Linked DNA regions of Homo sapiens. The protein of the gene in region 1 interacts with the protein of each later gene in a biochemical or structural test. Each region holds a gene or a part of one and is shown on either strand. Other genes may lie near its edges.

The links.
Region 2: the proteins of ACAN (region 1) and TNR form a complex in vitro, tested with the Homo sapiens proteins (one study listed by BioGRID).

The regions. Positions count from the first base shown.
Region 1 is NC_000015.10:88,797,000-88,808,069, reverse strand, and holds the start of ACAN (aggrecan core protein isoform 3 precursor), read right to left. Parts: upstream 4,635-11,070; 5' UTR 4,261-4,634; intron 1-4,260. UniProt on the Homo sapiens protein: This proteoglycan is a major component of extracellular matrix of cartilagenous tissues. A major function of this protein is to resist compression in cartilage. It binds avidly to hyaluronic acid via an N-terminal globular region.
Region 2 is NC_000001.11:175,361,224-175,371,929, forward strand, and holds part of TNR (tenascin-R isoform 1 precursor), read right to left. Parts: intron 6,075-10,706; coding exon 5,985-6,074; intron 4,916-5,984; coding exon 4,652-4,915; intron 4,057-4,651; coding exon 3,787-4,056; intron 2,605-3,786; coding exon 2,485-2,604; intron 1,587-2,484; coding exon 1,440-1,586; intron 1-1,439. UniProt on the Homo sapiens protein: Neural extracellular matrix (ECM) protein involved in interactions with different cells and matrix components.

The DNA.
Region 1 (11,070 bases):
TCAATTACAGAAAGACAGGCACCCCCGCCCCCACATACACCAAAATAGTGACCTACACAGAAGAGGTGGCTCCTTTTTTGAGTGTGTATCTTAAGAGGAAAAACATGTAACCTCAAAGGTAACCAAATATCCAAATCGTGATGCCCAGCATCACACACCCCAAATCCACCTATTCATGAGTTTAACAAAAAGCTTCTTTAGGATACACTGTAAGGCCATTGAGAGGGAGAGAAGTCACCTCTCACAGGCCTGGCCAGCCCGCAGGGCCCGCCCTGCCAGCATGCACACACACACACACACACACACACACACACACACACACTCCACCACTTATAAGGAGGCTCTGAGTTTTTAAAAGTAAACTCCACCGTTTCCGTTCTTGCCCTGGATTCAACTTTTGAAAAAAGAAACCGTTTTACCGTTTTCTCTACAAATTCCCCCTCTCTGGTCCTCCTCTCGCCTGCACTCCCGCTCCTTCTCCAGCCCTCCCCTTGTTCTGCCGGCCTCCCAGTGGCCCTTCTTCAACTGCGTCCAGGGGCCCAGACTCCCTCGCAGGGATGGCTGTGTCCTGTTGGATCTGGGGGAAGGGGAGCTGCCACTCCCAAAGTAGCTGTCACAGAAACGGGCCCTTCATCCCATTGAAGGGGCTTCCTTTAAGTTATCAGGGCGGCAGTGCGGCTACCATCAGGACACGAAGCATGGCCACGAGGCCAGGCCGTTGACAGCAGGAGAGGAAGGCTCCTGTTCCCAAGATGTGCTCCTGATCCCCTTTCCCAGGGCAGCTGCTGGCCTGTCCCCTCCCCTGCTCTACTTATAAGCAGACCTTCCTCCATGCCCTGCTTCCTCTCTGACTCTGGGTCCTCTTCCTTGAACTTGCCTTTCCCCAACTCCAGCTTCCACCTCAGCTGCCTTGACTCCCCAGCACTTGGTGCAGTGGCAGCAAGGATGCCCCAGCACCTGCCACCTAGGGCCACAATGCTGAAATTTCTGAGACAGAAACATCATTGGGACCAATATAGTAAAAAAAAAATTAAATAAAAATATATGCAAATATCAAATTTGTATATATTTGCATATATACATTTATATTATAAACATACATACCCTTATAGAGGGCTTCAAAATAAATAACAGAAACAAAAGTTTCCAGAAACAGTACTTACCTTTGCTACATAGGAGGCACTATGAGATTATCTGGTATTTCCTATTTTATTAAGAACCCCGCTAAATTGATCTCACAACCTGCAGTTGGACAAATCTGGTGCTAGACATCCCTGCAGCAGCAGAGACAGACTCAAAGTGGGACTCTAGGCAGGGTCTCATGGGCTTCCTTTGGCTCAGCTGAGGTCCTCCTAAGGGCCCAATAAGAAGGGTCTTGGGAGGAACCCAGTTCTAGAAGGAATCATTAAAAAGAAATTCACTGGCTGGGCATGGTGGCTCACGCCTGAATCCTAGCATTTTGGGAGGCTGAGGCAGGCGATCACCTGAGGTCAGAAGTTCGAGACCAGCCTGGCCAACATGGTGAAATCTCGTCTGTACTACAAATACAAAAATTAGCCGGGCGTGGTGGTACACAAGTAACCCCAGCTACTTGGGAGGCTGAGGCACAAGAATCACTTGAACCTGGGAGGCGGAGGTTGCAGTGAGCCAACATTGGGCCACTGCACTCTAGCCTGGATAACAGAGCAAGACTCCCATCTTAAAAAAAAAAAAAAAATTCACACCAAAAGTTAGGACACACAGTCTCTTATCAAGAGAAAACATTTGAAATTTTTGCTATCCATAACTTGGGGTTTGTGACCCACAAGGGGGCTTAGGAGCTGTTAGAGGAGAGGAATTAAAGTTTGTGGTGCTTGCTGAGAGCTGGACAAGGCACCCACTTTATGTCTTTTAATCTTCACAAAAATCTCTTATCGGAGGATTTTCTCCCCTTTTTAGAGAAGAGGAAATGAAGCCTCTGGGAGGCTCAGTACCCTTATCAAAGCCATGTAGCCAGCGAGTGGCTGAGCTGGAATTTGAATCCCAGTCTTCCTTGCATGCAGGCTGTCCACCCTCCTGGCTCTTGCCGACTGTCTCAGGAGGTGAGCTCTCTCTTGGAGCTCCCTCTCTAATTGGGGAGGGGGCATAAGAGGAGGAGAACGCTCTGCCTTGGCATGCAGGGGTGAGTGGCTGCCTGGGATTGGGCGTGTGGGTGTGAGAGAGATGGGGAACAGGGGCAAGAGGTGTGCCTGGGTGTGTGGAGGGCTTCCGAACATTAAACAAAATATTCCCTTTTAAGTATGATTGTCAGTGAATATTCTAGAAAAAGAAAAACATTCATTTACTACTAGAATTAAGAATGATAATAGTAATATTAATAATATGAAACAGTTACTGAGTACTTGCCCAGTGCCAGGCACTACGCTAAGCCCTTTGCTTGGGTCATCTCATATCTGCTGTTTATTGAGTACCCGCTGTGGGCCAGCATTGAGCACAGAGCCTGGCACCTAGGTGGCGCTCAGCAGATATTGGAGAATGAATGAAAATACCAGGCACAGCACTAGAAACTACACGTAAGAATATCTAAATTAAACACAGCTCAAGGTAACCTGTGGAATTCCAGCATCTCTCCAAGAGATATCTTCTTCCTTTGGACAATTCCTTCTTCTGAAACTTTTTATACTGGGGAGATCTACTATTCTGCAATCTTTCTTTCAGGTTAGAACCTCTCCTCCCCACTGCCGCTCAATGCTTCCTCCCCCAACGAGCTTCAGGGTTTTCTTCCCCATTGCCTTTCCATTTCCTGCAGTTTCTCCCTGGAGCCTGTGATTGACAAGCCAACACTCCTAAACCGTATCTTCATAGTGCCTCCAAACCCACCTTGCCCAGGGTGCATGAGCAACCTGATTGCTCCTTGTCCATGGCAACCCAGGACAAGAAAGAGAGATAAGGATTAGAACCCAAGAATTCTGGACTCTTAAATCAGGACGAGGGACCGACTATGGCCTCAGAAAACCTGGATTCTAGTTCTGCCCTTGACCCTAAGTCACAGTTCAACCTTCAGAAATTCATTGCACCTTTCTGGGTCCACTTGCCCTCCTCTTCAGACGAGGTGGGTGAATTTTCAAGGTCCAGAGTCCCCTCTAAACTGTCAGACACCCACCCACTGCAGCACCCAGGACCCCAAAACACCGTGCTAACCCAATTCAGCTTTGTATTTTCCTCCTGGCAGCCAGCCCCACAGAACCAGAATTTACACATCAGTCAACATGCTGGAACTCCAGCTTCTTCATGGTGAAACCCTAGTAGGATCCTGTCAGAACCCAGCTCATGACTGAAAGGAGGATAATGATGGAAAAGTTTGGGTTGGATCCTGTCTCACAACCAGAGACAAGCCCCCACCCCCGCAGCTTGCTCTGCCCAGAGTGTGGTTCAGTTGACATACTGACAGCCTCCAACCCAGCCCCAGGGTTGGAAAGGGCTCCTGCTCCACCAGCATTGGCTTCGTTTGAAGAGGAACCCACAGACGGAAAAACCGCTCGTGGTCGTGTGTCCTCAACTCCCCTCCCCTTTCTTCCTTGAGAAATGCCCCTTCTTGGTTGGACACCCGTGTGTTCAGGGCACTGCTCTCCTCTCCCCTGCTGGCAGTTCAGTAGCTCTGTCCCAGGTTCTGCCACTCTCCCCTGGGCAGACTCTTCAGGCACTCTGGTCCCTGGAGTAAGCCAAGTGGCCAAGGATGGACTATCTAGCCTCGGCTTAGGACCCGCTGTGTCCCTGACATAGTGTCCATATGATTTCATTTATTCTTCCAGACCCCGCGAAGGCCTTTTCCCTCTCAGCTGACAGACGGCAGGCCAAGGCTCAGGAAGGTGAAGCACACCTTCCAGCTCAAAAGTAGCACCTCGGGGATTTGAACCCACATTCCCTTGACTCTGAAGCTGCTACTCTGTCAACCATGGGTCTTTCCAGACCCTAGGATTTAAAATCACCTAGGTGTTTGGAGAAAAGGCTCCCTTGTTCCTTCATCCTGGCGGACTAGGAGACAAGTGCCCCTCCTCACGTGTTCCTTTGCCCCATTCACTGAGTCTGCAACAGCCAAAAAGTTTGCTCAACTCCACCGCGGACGCAGCCGGTGGATGTGCTGCGCCCCCGGCACACATAGCTCTAGGGCGGAGACCAAGGCAGTGCAGCCCCCAGCCCCGGGGCGTGCAGTCTCAGTCCCGTTCCTGGCTCGCCGGGCGCCCTGGGAGAGCCTCGCTCTGGAGGGAAGGAGACAGTTACCTTGAAGAGTTGGACTCCCTTCTCCAAGAACTTCAGTCCCACACACCTGGCGAGGCAGCTGGGGGCTCCTGGGGCCGGGAGGCCCGGGTCTCGCTGCGTAGCGAGGGAGACGCTCTGCGCGGGCGCTGCGCACCCCTCCTCCTGCCGGCGTCCTGTCCGCAGGTCCCCTCGGGCTGTGGCCGCAGCGGCAACTGCTGGGTTGCGGAGTCCTGGCTGGCTGAGGGAATGGACACTGAAAGGTGCCCGGAGACCCTGGCACCCGCGTCAGACGCCGGCCGGCGAGGGTGCTGAGAGAGAGAGACCTTGAGCAGCGCTGCGCGCGTCCTCAGCTCTGCGAGCCCCCTCTGGAGCGGCGGGGAGGTAGGTGGGCGGGCGGGCGGGCATGGCGCGCTGTGACACATACATAGGGACGGGCGGGGGAGGGGAGGGCCCGTGAGGGGTGGGGGCGGGAGGGGGCGAGCGCAAAGGGAAACCCCACCCCCAGGGACCGAGGGGCGGCCGACAGGGGGAGGGGAAGGCAGAGGCGTCTGGAGCGCGCTGGACCCTGGCTCCGGACCGGCGCGCCGATGGGGAAGCCGGCCTGCGCTCAGGGCGGGAGAGGAGCGCTCCCCGGGGCGGCGCGGACCCGGCAGCTCCGGGGCTGGCGGGAGGAAGGCGGCGCGAGAAGGGCTGGAGGGCCCGCATCTGCATTGCGGTCGGCAGCTCCGCAGTCGGAGGGGCCCAGGAGGGCTGCACCCTCAGAGAATCCCCAAGTGCCCGGACTCTGAGGCCGCCGCGGCGGGACAGGGCTCCCGGGCGCCCGGCGGGGTTCTGCAGCTGAGGCTGGCCACGACGCGATCTAAGGAGGGTGCAGCCCGCTACTGTCGGCCACGATTTGGAACGACCCTCACCGAGGAGCTGGCTGAAAGTTTTTTTGGGGGTGGCGTACACCGGGATGGCAGGGGATGGTGGAGAGGGGGAGGTAAGGCGTCAGCGGGGAGGCTCACGGGGAGCTGCGAGTCTCTGGGTCTTCAAATTCCCCGGGAGAGACCAAGGACATCTCATATGAAGCAGGAATTCTCCAGTGTCTCTACAGTACTCTTTAATACCGTTTTCAGGAAAAGGAGAAAAAGAACTAGCAGCTTTTGAATCCCTCCTATGAGCCCGTTGTGTAACATACATTAACATTTCATTTAATTTTTCCAAAGAGCCCAACAAGGTAAATATGGCAACTTCCCACCTGCCCCTAACCAAAGATGTGAAAACTGAGGCTCAGAAAGTGGTGGAGATCCCTCTTGAAGGTGGGACTGAGTTCGAGTCCCAGGTCTTGTGCTCTCTGCTACACAGGCTGCTGGTTGAGCCACAGCACCTTCGGAGGACTCAAGCTGGCTGGTGACCTTCAGAGTTCTTGTGGAGGAAGCTGGTGGTGCTTCACACCAGGATGTGGTGGCCACAGTCAGGATGGTGGTGGAAGCTTCCTGACCCTCTCATTGGGCAAGAAGAGGAAGAAGTGGAATCTTTCGGGACTCCCCACTACAGAGATAATAGACCACACTTTAATCAGTTCCTTGATGAAAAGGAACTGAAGTGCCTCGGTTTCCCCAGGGCGACTCCACTGGAATTATGTGGTTATTTTACTGGCCATCTCTGCCTGGGGGCGGGACTGGCCCTGGCCCAGCACATGCTCTGTGAGCCGCCTGTCTCTCCCCTGTCCAGGGCAGTGAAGCCCCGTCGGAGGGAGCATAGTGCCCACTCTATCCACCCACCTCTCAGAGCAATGGCTAAAGTGTTCCAGTGGTTGGCCATTCTTGATTTCACCCTTTTTCTACCTGAGCGTATTGAGTCAGGTCTGTAAGTCTTGAAGCATTTAGGACACAGACAAAATGCTGGTGACCGAAGCCCCTTAGGGGGTGATAGTGGCTTCTCTCACAGATAAAGAAATGAGATGAGGCCGGGCGCAGTGGCTCACGCCTGTAATCCCAGCACTTTGGGAGGCCGAGGCGGGCGGATCACGAGGTCAGGAGATGGAGACCATCCTGGCTAACACGGTGAAACCCCATCTCTACTAAAAATACAAAAAAATTAGCCGGGCGTGGCGGCGGGCGCCTGTAGTCCCAGCTACTCAGGAGGCTGAGGCAGGAGAATGGCGTGAACCCGGGAGGCGGAGCTTGCAGTGAGCTGAGACGGCGCCACTGCACTCCAGGCTGGGCGACAGAGCAAGACTCCGTCTCAAAAAAAAAAAAAGAGATGAAATCTTAATAGTTACTGGCCTCAATGCCTGGAACAGGGAGAAATGACCCTCTGGGAAAAAAACAGTCCCTGAAATTCCAACGAGGTCATGGATTCTCATGCCTGTGTTTACCTGATGCCTTGTGGGAGAACAAATTGCTCTCATTTGTAAAATGGGTTCATGTCAACATTCATCCTAGGGCAGGTGGGGTTAATGAAGAACAAGTCAAGGGCAAATATTAATTAGGCGATTTATCTTTGTATTGAAGGGAACAAATGTTTATTGATCATCTGGTTTTGTAATGAGTCTAAGAAACATATATTGGGCACCTATTATGTGTCAGATGCTGCTTGGTACAGCAGCCTCTCAGATGGATGCCATTCCCATTTACACACTAAGAAACCAAGACTCAGAGGCCATCAAGGTAGTGAATGGGATTGGAGTACAGGCTGGTATGAATTCACACTCCCTAGCCCTAAAGGATACAAAAAACCCAGGATAATGGCAACGCATTTGGACACTTTAAAGACAGTATTCAGAGAGTCAAAGGACATGCGTGTCAGAAGGCCCTTGGTGGCATACACAGGCTCTTCCTGTCCAACTCAGGAGCTCTGTTCCAGTGTAATATTTCTGAAGCTGGTCATCTCCTCTTCTGCTAGAATACTTTACAGTTGCCTAATGCCTTTTCCAGGCTGCCCGATGCAGTCTGCTGTAAACTGGCAATTTCTAACCTCTTGCTGCTCAGAGTATGTTCTATAGACTGGCAGTGTCACCTGGAAGCTTATTCAAAATGCAGAATGCCAGGTTCCCCAGACCTACTGACTCACAATCTGCATTTTAACAAGATCCCTCCCGTGTTGTATATGCCTGCTGAAGTTTGAGAAGCACTGTGCTGACATCATTCAGCAGGTTCTACTCATTCAATCACAAATCACAGAATAAGAGAATCTCAGAGCTGGGAAGAGCTCTTGGAGAACTTTAAGGACACCCCTCCATAGAGTATGTCAGTCCTGTCCATGATGTTTCCCTCAAGTAGGACATCAGACTCTGCTTGGATGTGGCCATGAGTTTGACTCCCTTCTGAGGCCACATCCATTTTTTTCACGTGGTTCTTGTATTTAGGCAGCTTTCAGCTTTCACAGAAGCTCATGCCCAATACTGTGGATTCAGCAGTGAACAAGACAGGCCCATTTCCATCCCCCCAACCCTAACCTGTCCCAGGACCTCCTGCCACGTGATAAACCTTTCTGTTTGGAATCAGTGATCTCAAGTCTCTCCCTTCTCCCTTTTGGATTGGGTCCAGAGGAGAGCTCACCTCAATAACCTGGGTCCTGTGCTTCTGGTAATGCAGCCAACATTTATGTGCTTTTATGACAGCCTCATCATGACTCATTTGGAGCCTGCAGCCAGCTCAGACTTCCTTTTCACAGTGCTTCTGCCACCTAGCATCTCCTTTGGCTTATCCTGGTACAATGGGTTTTTCCAATCCAAGTGTGGGGCTTCATTTTTGCTTCTTTTAAACATTACACTAACTAATTCAGTTTACTACTTCAGATCATCTTGGATTCTGACTCTATTATTCTGTGTGTTTGCCATTCCTCTTAGCAGCAGACATTCTACAAAGCTAACTAGTGTGCCACTTCTATGTTTTCATTCAGGCTGCTCATAAAAATATTGCCTGGGACGGAGATTAGGGCTGAGTTCTAGAGCAGAGCACTAGAGACAGCCCCCCTGGAATGAACGACATAATCCGATATTCCAGTTATAATGGCTGTGTAACAAATCACCTCAAAACTGAGTGTCTTAAAACAATAGTTATTTAATATCTCTCATGGTTTCTATGGATCGGGAATTTGGGAGAAACTTCGCCAGGCAGTTCTGGCCTGGACTAGCTCTTGAAGTTGTAGTCAGATGTCAGTTACAGCTGCAGTTAGCTGAAAGCTTGACTGGGGCTTGAGGATCCATGTCCAAGGTGGGTCGCTCACGTGATTGGTGAATTGGTGCTGGCTGCTGGCCAGTGACCTCATTTCATCTCCATAGGGCCTCCCGATGGAGCTGCTTGAGTGTCCTCATGACATGGCAGCTGGCTTCCACCACAGTGAGTGACACAGGGAGTGCAGTGCTTCTGTGTCATAGCTTTGGAAGTCCCACACAGGGCCAGCCCTGAACTAGTGTGGGAGGGTCATACAGGATGTGAATACCAGGGGATGGGGATCACTGGGGGCATCTTGGAGGCTGGCTTCTACACTCCATTAAACTAACTCATAGAGCATGGCCAGTCCCCCCATCCATCTGACTGTATTACCATGGAGTGCTTATTTCTGTCCCATACATGGGGACACCATGAAGGTACCTTGCTAAGTCCCAATATAAGGTGCTTGCAGAATTCCTCTGAAGCATTCATTCCAAACTCTTTTACAAGTGAGTGGCCCAATTCTGCTCTCTAGAGCAACACAGTCTGCCCCCATTTCAACAGGGGCAGCCTCCAGTTAGTGCAGGAGGGTTCTCACATCACCCTTCATGTCTCTCCTCACAGGGTCTTTGACTGTTTCCCAAGGGAGTGTTCTTCTGGAGTTTGCTTCTGGATTCCTCACTCTCTGCGAACCTTGTTTGTGGATGCCCCTCAAAAATGCAATGCCCGGCATTAGATGCACAAGCCCAGGTGTGGACTGATTAGAGGGGAGCCAGGACAACTCTTTTCTCTAACCATTTGGATATTCTGCTCCTACCGGTATGGCCAAACATCGTTGAGTTTCAGAACTACATCTCACTGTTGCTTGATATTTAATCTTGCAGGCAATTAAAATGAAGACTGTTTCCATGCGGGCCCCCGTGAAAGGGATTCCTGTGTATCTCAAGCAACAAAGAGAGCTGTGGAGCAAGGAGATTCCCTGTGTAATCGGGAGCACTGGATGTGAATCCCAGGTCTGGCATGGGAACCTTGGGTGAGTTTCTTAACCTCTCTGGATTTTGGTTTCACATCTGTAAAATGGAGCTATCTTATGGAATTGTTGTGAGAATTAAAATAAGATATGGAATGTCAGCCCCTAGTAACTGATCTGGCTCAAAGTGCAAGGATGGTTAATTTTCTTCCTTCCCCCTAGCCCCCACAATTTGGTGTGCCTGAGTAAGTACATTCTCTCCTGTGTGCTGTTTTCTGTGTTTGTAAAAGAAGCTAAAAATACCCACCTCATAGGAGTGTGGCAACAATGAATACTATATGTAATATGTGTAGAGAACGTTGTGATCCTTTTTGGAAGCAAAGGGCCATAGAAACATGATATAGAAAAGCCTTCTTATAGCAGAACTGGGCCAGGGAGTGGAGTCTAGTGAGAACTAGTGGAACACTTGAAAAGTGCTGTTTTATTACTTTAACACTGTACTAGTGGCAAAGTAGGAGGGAAATGTTATAATAAAGAACATGGAGACAGTTAATGAAACACTCACAAGCCTCCACGGGTCTGTGTGGAATAATGACATACAGTAACGGGAAAGTGCTGTGTCACCAAAGACATAGAAATTGAAGGGCACGTTTAAGGAAACTCTCTTAAAGCTTCAGTTTCAATTTTTTTTTTCTGAATTCATAGCAGATTCTTATTTTTAGTAAAACCCTACCATTTATAAAAGAGGAAATTATGGCAAGCATTTTATTCATTACTCACTAGTGTTTTTTTTTTTATCATTGAGAATACTCAGTGAGTGATGCTGAGTGGAATGTTACGTATCACCATCATCATCAGCATCCATCCCACCACCATCATCACAACCACCACCACCACCATCATCATCATCATCATCATCAACAGCTTTTTCCAAGCAAGTCTGGAATAAGAAGAGAAGTCGGAGGATTTAGGCTTTGTACTTCCTGGCAGCCCCAGCCCCTGAGGCTCATGCGATCCTGCTCACCTTCTCTCCCTGACCCCGAACCCTAAGGGGCTCCCGCACTCCAGATCGTAGCTGGCTCTTCTCTATTCTTTTCCTTATTCCAGCCATTAGAGTCTTTTGGGACTGGCTTCTCAACCTTTGTCACATTGGGCTTGATATTTTTAGTTTCTTTCAGTGGTAAATATTAGATTATTCAGAAAAATTGTTGTCCCAGATTTCCACACATGATGGTATAGATACAGAATATACACTTATAAAATAAGCAGAAATGATATCTCATGAACATTTGCTAGAATTGAAATAGAAGAGGTGCAGGCAGCATCCCCATAGCTTAAAAATGATCTGCTAAGATGTGGGCATGACTTTTCCCCACAAAACTTGCCACTCATTTGATATTATAGTGCGGGGGAATAGTCTTCCTGACATTTTAGTGGTTGTTATTGCTGTATTTTTTTTTTAGGGCATATTTTTTTAAGGGGAGAAAATGAAGAATATGTAAGGAAAAAAATCAGTACTTAGCTGGGTTACCTTTTATTCTTAGGACATTTACTTGTTAGCATTACAGTCTTAAAATAGTCTTCTACCAAATACATTACCAACAGGCATTTCCAAAATGCTGAGAGTACTCTATCTAGTCTCAAATTCTCAAGTTCAAAAAAATGGAATGCCAGTTCCTCCATGGGCTGACACAGCCTCATTATTATGGCCATATTTAT
Region 2 (10,706 bases), on another chromosome or scaffold:
GCTAAAGAAATGAGTTTTTGATTGAAGTTGCTGGTCTCTTTTATCTTGGGGATAGGAGGCTCTTGAAATACATTTTATTGTCCTCAATGGGAAAAAGGCTAATTTCTTTAATATGAATTTCTTGGTTCAAGAAGGTGGGATAGAGGCTTCTTTTGGTGTATTGGACCTCACTTCTGGCCAACACTTGTTGATATTTTAATGGTCACAGGTAATTTAATAGATAGGGCAAAACTGAATGGCTGTGTTATCTGTTGTCATAAGCCTGGAAGGAGACTAGGGAGGATCAGAATATCCTGCGCTGTCTTTAGAAGAATAATTTTTGTGTTTGTGAAGGAATATTTCTTGGCCCATTGCCTTAGAGATGCTGTTTCTGAGCTTCCGAGAACATCTACGAAAGCAGTAAGGAATTCTAAAGTATATTTCCCTCATTTGGGAAATACCATTCTCCAGTGAAATTAAGCAACTGTAGAAAATCCAGGTGTTCTCCTAATGAGGCAAGCTGGATGTTTTCCCACGTGCTGTGGGAATGATGGCTTAACTAGGAGGTTTGGTCTAGGGTATGGGAATAGAACACTTTGGCTGTGCCTGCTAGTGAGTTCTGCAGCGAATCTTTGCATGTTCTGCCTGGTGTACTTGCTGAGGGGCCAGAGACGGAGGAGCAGTGGTGCTAGCAAAGGAGCCTTCTCTTCAGCCCCATTGCGTGGGCTTGTTTTCAAGAGGGAGGCCATGGGATTTGGACTACCTTTCCTCACTTTCCCATATTGCAAGCCAGTCTCTCCCTTGCACCTCCCTTCCTCTGGTCATTATGTAGGAGCTGATGGAGGATGCAGAAGACATCTGGATCTGACTAGGGGGCCTGTCAGAGACATGAGCTACACGGTGCCCCTGCAGGCAGCCCAGGATGCACACGGAGCCACATCACCTTCACTGCTTTGGTCCCGGGTGAGGGAGTTATGGCCACTTTGGTGCCTTCTTTCTCCCTGGAGCACAAAGCAAGAGCAAAGGCACCTTCTTGGTGGTTTCTGGCTATATCTGATGATGAATTTCATGACCCCATTCCATTACTGGAATAACAACCCTTTTCTTCTCGAGGTGAAATTTTCTCATCTGAGTCTTTTACAAAATCAGATGAATGATTCAGATATCTGTTTTAGAATTCACTTCCATTATATGTCTGAAAGGGCACTGTTTATGTTGGAAGTTCCATGAAAATTCCTAACCTAAACCAGCAAGACTTCTAGAGGGTGACTCTCTAAACGTTTAGTATTAGGGAGGAATATTGGGGGAGAGAAATTGCAAATTGCCCTGCAAGACACAGTGAGTTGGAGGAGCACCCCGAAATGGAGCCTTAGCCTCCAGAACCTTTCTACAAGCCCGAACAACTTCACCCAGATCTTCAGCCAGGGTTCTGACTTGACACAGCAGGGAGACATTCCCACCTGTGTGCACAAGAGTACAGATGCGCTCGCTTTCCTCCCTGCCCCGCACGCTGTTGAGGCTGATTTCGTATTCGGTAGCTGGGTTCAGTCTGGTGATGGTGAATTCTGTCACAGTGTTGGGCACCACTGAGCTGTCTAGTCGTCCCACTGGAGAAGAGAAGAATCTACAGTTAAAATTCAGCAGCCCTTTCATCCAAGCAGCCCATGGTACAGTCTATGTCAATAAAGCACAGATGGGTGTGGGACTCCGCACTCAGTGGGGAGGGATGATACATGGTTCATGGGCTGGGAATGTTGGAGTGTGAAGAGGCTTTGCACACTGGTCTCACTCCTTCATTTTATGGGCTCCTTGGAGCAAAGAAAAATGACCTACCTATTAAGTGGTTTTCTAACAAGCTGGTCTTCTCTAAGACAATGACATTAAGGCAGTGTAGAGGGCACCGATGCAAGGAGCAGTCCCCACAGTCCAGAGACAGTGTAGTCTGGAATGCTGTCCTGTGTCCTCACTGGAAGTGAGTGTGCCCTCCACTTCCTTAAAAATGCCACATGTACCAGCAAGAACTGGCAGGATGCAGGTGAGGTCTGGGCCAGTTTCCTCTGACTCATAACTTGTCTGGAGTGGCTGAAATGGGACCACATCACTGTGCTTCCCTCCAAGGCTCCATCTGGCTTTGCTGGGTCTTTAGCCATCCCTCTGGATCCTAGTCTTGAACTTCATTCTTGTAGGAATATTCATGTGACCCAAGCTCTTGGCAGATTCTTTTGGGGCTCTTTTTTTCTCAAGACACTGCCTAGATAATGGTGATCAGTTACCTCTGCTAGTGAAGGGCCTGCTCTCTGGGTGAATGTAATCAAGCCTTTCTCAAGAGGCATTGGTGAGTGTGGGGTTTCTTGGCTGCTCACCAGCCCACTCTCATTCTGATGCAGCATGCCACAGAGAAGAGGAAAAACGCAGGCAGGAGTGGATGTTCTGCGGGATATGCTAGTTCTCCCATAATCTTCACCCAAATCCTAGTATCTTTGAGAAATCAAATCACTTTGTTACCTTGGGTGGGTCGATATGATACTCGGTAGTAATCGAAAGATGCAACAGGAGGGCTCCAGGAGACCATCACTGAGTCCTTGGTCACATTGCTAATTGTGATGTCTTTTGGGGGATCAATTCCTACAAGGACCCAGTGATTGTGGGAAAAAGACAGAAAGCACAGTGTGAAAAAGAAATTCTCATCCCTGGTTTTATGTTGACCAAAAGCCAATGTTGTCCCAAAGGCAGACAAGATCTTTCCATGTAATAGGGTATCTTAAAACCATGGTCACGCTGATGTTTCACTTGAAACCTTGTAGGTATGACCAAAGCTATGTTCATGGAGAATATTTTAACAACATGAAGACAAGCTGGCAAGCTCTGTACCTGTTACCTATCTGCAAGCCAACTAGGAACTTTTTTTTTAAGTTCATATGTTTTGTTTTGAATTGGGAGAAACATAGGCATTTTCTCTGAGGTAATTTTTTAAGATAAACCAAATTTTGCCTGTATCTCTTATTCTTTAGCAGCCACCTTTGGTTTCAGTTTTGAAAAACTGCCTATTGACTATACAGGGATTTCAGAGCACAAGTCCAGAACAAATCCATTTTCCTAAATTGTATTTCATTTATGCTATGGGCTTTTTTTTTTTTTTACTGCTAGGGGATCACAGAGTTGATCAGCTAAGTGTTTAATCTACTTGTCCAGTTTGTGAGTTCTTGTTAGTAAGGAGGAAACTACCCAAACATACATATCTTCACCCACATGTACCTCATATTTGAAACTGTGTTTGGGAATAATGAGCTGGGACTGATCCAATTCATCTCTGAGTGCCTGTGTTTTCTAAGCAACATCCAAATCAACCCCATTCTCTGAGTGCCAGGTCACTACCTGATTGCATGCTAGTCCCATGTGAGACTAAGGAAGCATTATTGTACGAGTGAACTTTCTGGGCAGTTAAGAGATGGTTCTTCAGAATAGGAACAGGTGTCTCTTCACTGTAGAGGGATTCCTCTTGGAGACTAGCTTTCTCCAGTGCTTTTCTTCTAAGCTGGTAGTGGGAGGTCTTTTGGACAAATGCATTCAAGCTTTGACCTCCTCAAGACATTGACTTTGTCCCACCTTCCAAGTGGGAGTTTCTTATCTAATGCATCTTCTGCAGCACTGGAGGAAGTAGCTGTTTCAGAACAGGTCACAGACTTTCTCTAGCCATAGAGGAAATCCCCTACTCCTTGGGTCTTTCTCTTTTAAAATTTCATTGATTTGTCAAAGGCTACTGTGAAAACCCCTTTCATCACCTGCTGCCAAGTCCTCCAGCCTCACCTGTGGTGATGGAGCCCACAATGGGCTCAGAGGTCACTGTGCCATGGACAGCCACAAGGTTCACAATATACTCTGTGGCTGGTTGCAGGCCCATCAGGACAGCATGCCTCTTGGTGGCATCCAGGGAGACCTCCATCATCTCTTCCTCCTCATCCCTGGGGCTGTAGTTAAGAATGAGTCTGTCTGCTGGGGGAGATGGATCACTCCAAGTGATGTTCACACTGGAGGAGGTCACATGAGAAAAGTGCAGATGAGAGATGGGACGGAAGCCTGCAAAGCAAAGGAGATGGATGGTCCTGAAACACGTGAGGAGATGGGTCACTGGGCTAGAAGAACTTCTTGGCTAAAGGGACCTGCTCTCCTTGCTAATAAGGGCCACACCTTCACCCACTAACCAAGAGATTCCACCTCCTCACCCTCCAGTGCTGTTCACTCCACTTTTTCCAATCCAAATATAGGAAAATGGATTCTGTTAAAATGAGAACTACTTCTGTGAGTTAATCATAATACTGAACCAGGATTGAAAGCCTGTATCCTGGAATGAATTTTATATGATCCCATGGATCCTCTGAATTCCCACTGATTTACTGCAGCAGGGAAAGATGGACAGAATCAACTACTATGTCAAGGCCATAGAAAAGCCAGACACAAGTTTTCAGGCAGGTAACACTATTGCTCACCTCCCCTCTTTACTTCCAACCCTTCCCTCTTGATGCACTTATTAGTTTTTACTCTATCCTTTTCTACCCACCTCTCTTTTCTCCAAAGGAAATGGAACATTGGAAGAGTGACTTGCCTGAATGAATTTCTCACACTGAGATCCACTGATCCCTGAACCTGGCTGGGATTTCTGCTGCTCTGGTACCTGTGAAAGCATCCACAGTGGACTCCAAGCTCTGCTGCCGACCCCTCTCAGCAGTGACGGAAATGATGTACTCTGCCCCAGGCTCTAGATCTGTTAGTGTGTATGAGGTCCTGTCCTTGGGTACGGTGACTTCTGAGGCAATCCCAGAGGATGGGGTAAAGGTAATTCGGTAGTGGTCAATGGGGCCACTGGCCTTGGTCCAGATGAGGGAGATGGAGGTCTCCGAGGAGGCTGTCACCATGAGGTCTCGGGGACTGTCAAGTTCTGTGGATTGACATAAATGGCCTATTTTACATGTGTTCCCCTGGAGGGCAGTATTTATTGGCCTGCTTTGTGTGTTTCCAAGCTATCAGCAGGCCTGCTGACTATGAGCACTAGCTTGTCATTGCTGACACTTATCTAATATTTTGCTAAGTACCTTCCCTCTGAATGATGGCCAGGGGCTTGGCAAATAGATGAACAATCTGAAGAAAGCCGTGATGAGCTCTGATACCACTGGATTGCATCCACCTCTGGGACAAAGCTGGCTGCTGATTTTCAAGCTCGCCATATTCATTTTCTCCCATCCTTTCTCAATGAGCCAATAAGGATAAAATGGTAGCTACCACCAAGTAGGGATATGCCATTCCTGGCAACAGAAGCGCACCACCCTCCAACCCTGAGGCTATTTTGACTTGTTCTAACCATAGCCAGGCAGGCAGCTAGATCTGAGGACCTGGAGACTTTTGTCCATGTGGTTCTCTAGAGAGGCTGAACCTTGGGACAAGGACTGGTCTAAAATCCCTAGCCCAGCCCAGGCTGCTAGTACCATAGGTGCTGAAATGACTTTGAAATTTACCCAGGATTTGGAAGCAAAACTGCTGAATCCAGAGCAGCAAGGGTCTCAGCTGGACTTTTCTTCTGCCCTCAGATTTAATGGGTTGTTGCAAGTCTAGACCTTCACCCAAGTGGCGTTTGTGAGGACCTCTGTGGTGTATGCAGGGCGAGGATGCCCCATTCTGCCTGCTGTCGGGGTGGTCTAGATAAAAATATGGCCTGCAATGGCATCAACCTATTTAGGATTTTCCACCTCTGCTCTGTACAGCCCTGAGCAGCTCTTCAGACCACGGGGGACCGAGCACAGGTCTGTGGGGAAGAGGGTGACTCTGTCCTGCCTGTCAGAGATCAAGGATTAGGCATAGGGTGGATGTTGTTTCTAGGCTGACAGTTGTCACCAGAGCCCTGTTCACTGGAAGACATTGCTTTCTGATTAATTTTTGCTGGGACGAGCCTCCATGACTCCTTAGGCTTATAGGCTAACCTGGTCTTCTTCCTCAGCAGTCCTCCTACTCACCAGTCCTGGCATTCATGGTGGCTGGCACGCTTTGCTGTGAGTTCATGACGGCAGATATTCCAACTCCATACTCAGTGCCAGGTACCAGATCTATCAGTGGATGGAGAAACAAACATTATTCTGTGTATGGGGCAGGGCTAGGAAGGCTGAAAGTGGGAAGAAAATGATCTTAGACTCCTATTCATATCTTGTGTTTAGTCCTCCTTGAATCCTCTCCTAATTTGAACTATTAAGAAATCCCAATTTCACTATTTAGGAATCCCAAGTCAATAGGATGAACCAGCCCACGCAGAGCTTCCTTCTTGCAGGCAGGCTCTCTGGGAAGGCAGTGAGGCTGCCTTGTCAGTGACCTTCAGAGGTGTGCTCACATAAGTATACAAGGACTCCTTGTATGCTTAGCGTCTCAGGTTGGCTTGAACCAGCGAGAGGATTTCTTGCTTAAATTGTGAATTTCGGGAGTATGTAATCAAGAGAGACAGTGTGGACATAGACCTGAAAAGCATTCCTTGAATGTTATATACAAGGACCAAGCTACACCTTTTACAGGAGCTGAGGCCATATGGGGACTCCTGGGTCCCTTCTAGGGAGGAACAGTGGATGGACTTTTTTTTCTAAGCACAGGGCTGTCGAGTAGGAGCATGCAGAAGTCCTGTTGCTGTAGGCCCCCCGCCAAGTTCAGTAATTCAGGCCTCAGGGTATCTAAAGCTGTGGATCTAATTTTAGAATAACTTTCAGGGGAGTCCAGGAAGACAGAGGAGACACAAAAACTGTCCCACTAAAGGGTGTAAGCTTCTCTGAGGAAATCCTTTGGGAGGTTTACTACAAAGGATCTCTGAGAACCTCCTAGAATATCTGGAATTCTCTAGGTTCTCTCCTTGACCTCTTTCACATTTATTTTCAGACTAACTGGTTTGACTGGTGTACTAGTTTCCTATTGCTGCTGTAACACATCACCACAATTTAGTGACTTACAACAACAAAAGTGGATTCTCTTACAGTTAGTTCAGGAGGTCTGCAGTCTAAAGTAGTTCAGCAGGGCTGCCTTCCTTCTGGAGGCTCTAGGAGAAAATCCATTTCCCTGCCTTTTCTAGCTTCTAGAGGTTGCCTGCATTCTTTGGTTCATGGTCTCTTAATCTATCTTCAAAGCCAGAAGCTTGAAACGATCAAATCTGTTTTCTCTGTCTGACTTCTGCTCCTATCATTGCATCTACTCTGACTCTGACCTCCCTACATCCACTTATGAAAATCCTTGCGATCATGTTGGTCCCACCTGGATAGTACAGGCTAGTCTCTCCTTCTCAAGATCTTTAACTTAATCACACCTGCAAAGTCCTTTTTGCCCTGTAAGGTGGTTATATTCACAGATGCTGGGGATTCTTTGAGGGCTATTTCATCTATTACAACTGGCATCAAACTCATTTTTATCTATTAGGACTGGGGTTGTAGAAAAACCCAACAAAGGCAGGGCACGGTGGCTCATGCCTGTAATCCCAACACTTTGGGAGGCCAAGGCGGGTGGATCATCTGAGGTCAGGAGTTCGAGACCAGCCTGACCAATATGGTGAAACCCATCTCTACTAAAATTACAACAATTAGCCGGGTGTGGTGGTGTGCACCTGTAGTCCCAGCTATTTGTGAGGCTGAGGCAGGAGAATCGCTTGAACCTGGGAGGCTGAGGTTGCAGTGAGCCAAGATCATGCCACTGCACTCCAGCCTGGGTGACAGAGTGAGACTCTGTATCAAAAAAACAAAAACAAACAAACAAGTAAACAAAAACAAAACAAAAAAACCCAACAAAATCAAGTGATCACCCTGAGGGCCTCCAGTGGTCAGTCTGAGTCCTTCCGGTAGGCTCTTTTTGGGGCTTTGTGTGGGCTCATGGCTGATTGGAATGGTATTCTGTATTTATATAACATCTGTGCTTTTCAAAATGGATTGTGTTTTAGAGTCTCATCACAACCTTGGGAGGAAGGTGGGATAAGCAGTCTTTTCTCCATCTACATTAGCTTCCTGTGGATGCTGTTATAAATTACCACACACAGTGTGGCTTAAAACAGACATGTGTCCTCCCACGGTTCTGAAGTCTGGAAGTCCGAAATCAAGGTGTCGCCAGGACCATGCTTCCTCTGAAGGCTCTAGGAGACCTAGGTTCTGGTGGTTGCCAGCACTCCCTGGCATTCCTTGGCTTGTAGTTGCGTCACCCCAGTCTCTGCCTCTGTAGACACATGTGTGTCTGTGTCTTCCCCTCTTCTTATAAACACACCAGTCACATTGAATTTAGGGGCCACCCTAATCCAGTATGACCTCATCTTAACTCTACTGCATCTCTAAAGACCTTATTTGGAAATAAGGGTTTGGGGTGGACATGCATTTTGAGGGGACTGTTATTCAACAGAGTACATCATCTTTTTATAAAAAGAAACTGTGGCACGGAGTAAGTCTGTGACCAGCTAGAGATGCCCCCCCGGATTCTGGTCTCAGAGTTCAGGGCTTTTAGGAGGAATGGGACATCCTATTACTTCCTTCCACCGCTCAGGGCAGCTGTGATTTCTCTGGAATCCCTGATTTTGATCGGAAATACTTTGAGCAACATTCCTTTAACAAATGGCTTGGCTTGGTCAAGAGGAATGCTGCCTGGCAGCCAGGGGGTTCTTCATCCCCTTCCTCAGTAGGCTTTTGTGGAGTCCATGCAATAAATGTTGCTTAAGCATGGCAGAGCTTACCAGGCCAGTTTCTCTCCCAGGAATGCAGTCCCGAAGCCCTGTCTGGGTAGGCATTCGAATCAGCCCTCTTTTTTCTCTTCTTAAACCAGCTCCCTTTCTTTCCCAACCCTTAATTCTTTCTTTCTCTAAAGTGGCAACACCAGTGGAGGTAAACTTTGAAGTTTGACAGACTTTGACGTCTGACATATCTATATTTGGTCTCTTTCACTTTTTACCTGTGTAATTTTGATTACTTAACATCTATGAACCTCAATTTCTGAAGAATGAGAATAAAAACAGCATCTATATCAGAGGGTCATCATGAGGATTATATGAGTCAAAGTGTTTAAAGTCCAGTGCCTGGATCTTAGCGGTAGTAGCTAGTATTTTATTACTTTGCACAGAGAACTATTCCTGGATTTTGAGTACTTTTTTTTTTTTTTTTTTTTTTTTTTTTTTTGGTGAGTGGTCTCATCAACTACAAAAACCGCCCCAGGCAAGTACAGGCCGGTCCTGGGTGCACCTGTTGACTTCTTGTTATTGGTTTGCTGGGGCTTAGCCTGTTGGCTCTGTTGGAAACCAGTGATTCAGGGAGTCCAGGTGGCAGTGAGGACCTTCTCCCTGGCTGGGCCAAGTACCTATCTCTAGATTGAGTGGGTGATTGCAATACCCCCTGATCCATTTGAAGCACACATTTATCTCCATCAATATGTTCAGTGAGTTCCAGGTACATCCTTGGTTGCAGAAATGAGATTACCTTTGGGACATAAACTACTTTTATCAGGCAACTGATTAAGACCTTCAATTGCCTATAATGAAGTAGAAATTCTCCAACATAGATGAAGGGTGACAGATGGAGGGAGTAAGACAGAAATTATACGTTGCCAAACAGATCTAACATGTAACATTTTCATCCCAGTTTCTTATTTATGAAGCTTAAATGAAATGTTCAATAATTTACAATGGAATCATCTTCTCCCAGAAAACTGCAGAGCAGAATTTAATGTGTTCTCTTCCCAGGTTTTCTGTCTAGAGGATGGAAAAGTGGGACTTGCTTATAGGTTTGTGCCTGCTGCTTTCCTTTGATTTTCAGCAGCTTTCTTCCATGCTACAAGTGAATTGTTGCTCTTTGCCAGCAGGTTAGACACAGTTCTGCTGGAAAAAAAAAAAAACCACATGTATCCGAGGCATAGCCAGTGCACTTAGATATCAGCACTCTGAGTACTCCTAGGGATTTCTCACTTTTTAAAGACCCCATTGCTCTCTATCAATGCCCCCTTTATCTCTCCATCCAACTCCTGCAAGTGGTAACATATAAATGGCCCTGTTCCCTTTCTTAACAATAGCACAGAAAATTCATCCCATAGGAAATCACTACTCTCTGTTCCTTATAGAACTTTCTTTGTTCAACTTGGAGGTTGATGCTTTTCTCAACTCTTTCACCTCACACCCATTCTTCTTGGAACCCCTAAAGCACAGTCATACATTCAACAAATATTAAGGGCCTCCTTTGTGTCAGACACAAGGTGGTGTGAGCTGAACAAGACATTAGCCTTGCCTTTTGGGGGTGAAAAGGAATCTGTGCTAAAAAAGTAAAATAATTATTTAGTGAGCACCCATAATATGCCTAGCACTAAGCTACATGGAAAAGAATAATGACGAAGGGGAGGGAAGAAAAAGAGAAGTAAAAAATGAAGACTTTTTGAGTGTCTGATGGTAAAGAGTTATGCAAGTATTACTGAGCTTCTTAAAGATTCACACGTTATTTAATTTCCCTGAAGCACTACTGATAGGGTATTGCAGATGAGCAAACAGGGGCTCCAAGAAGTCTATTCCTTGGCCAAGGTCACAAAACTGATACATGATACAACTAGGTTTGGAACCCAAGTCTCTTGTTATTTTCTGACTCATGATAGCATGGTTCCCATCCCTGAGTCTTACAGGCCAGGAGGAAGGAGTGGAGTAAGCAACTTGGAATTCGAGAGTGATTTGGTACCTGTTATAGTTTGGATGCTTGTCC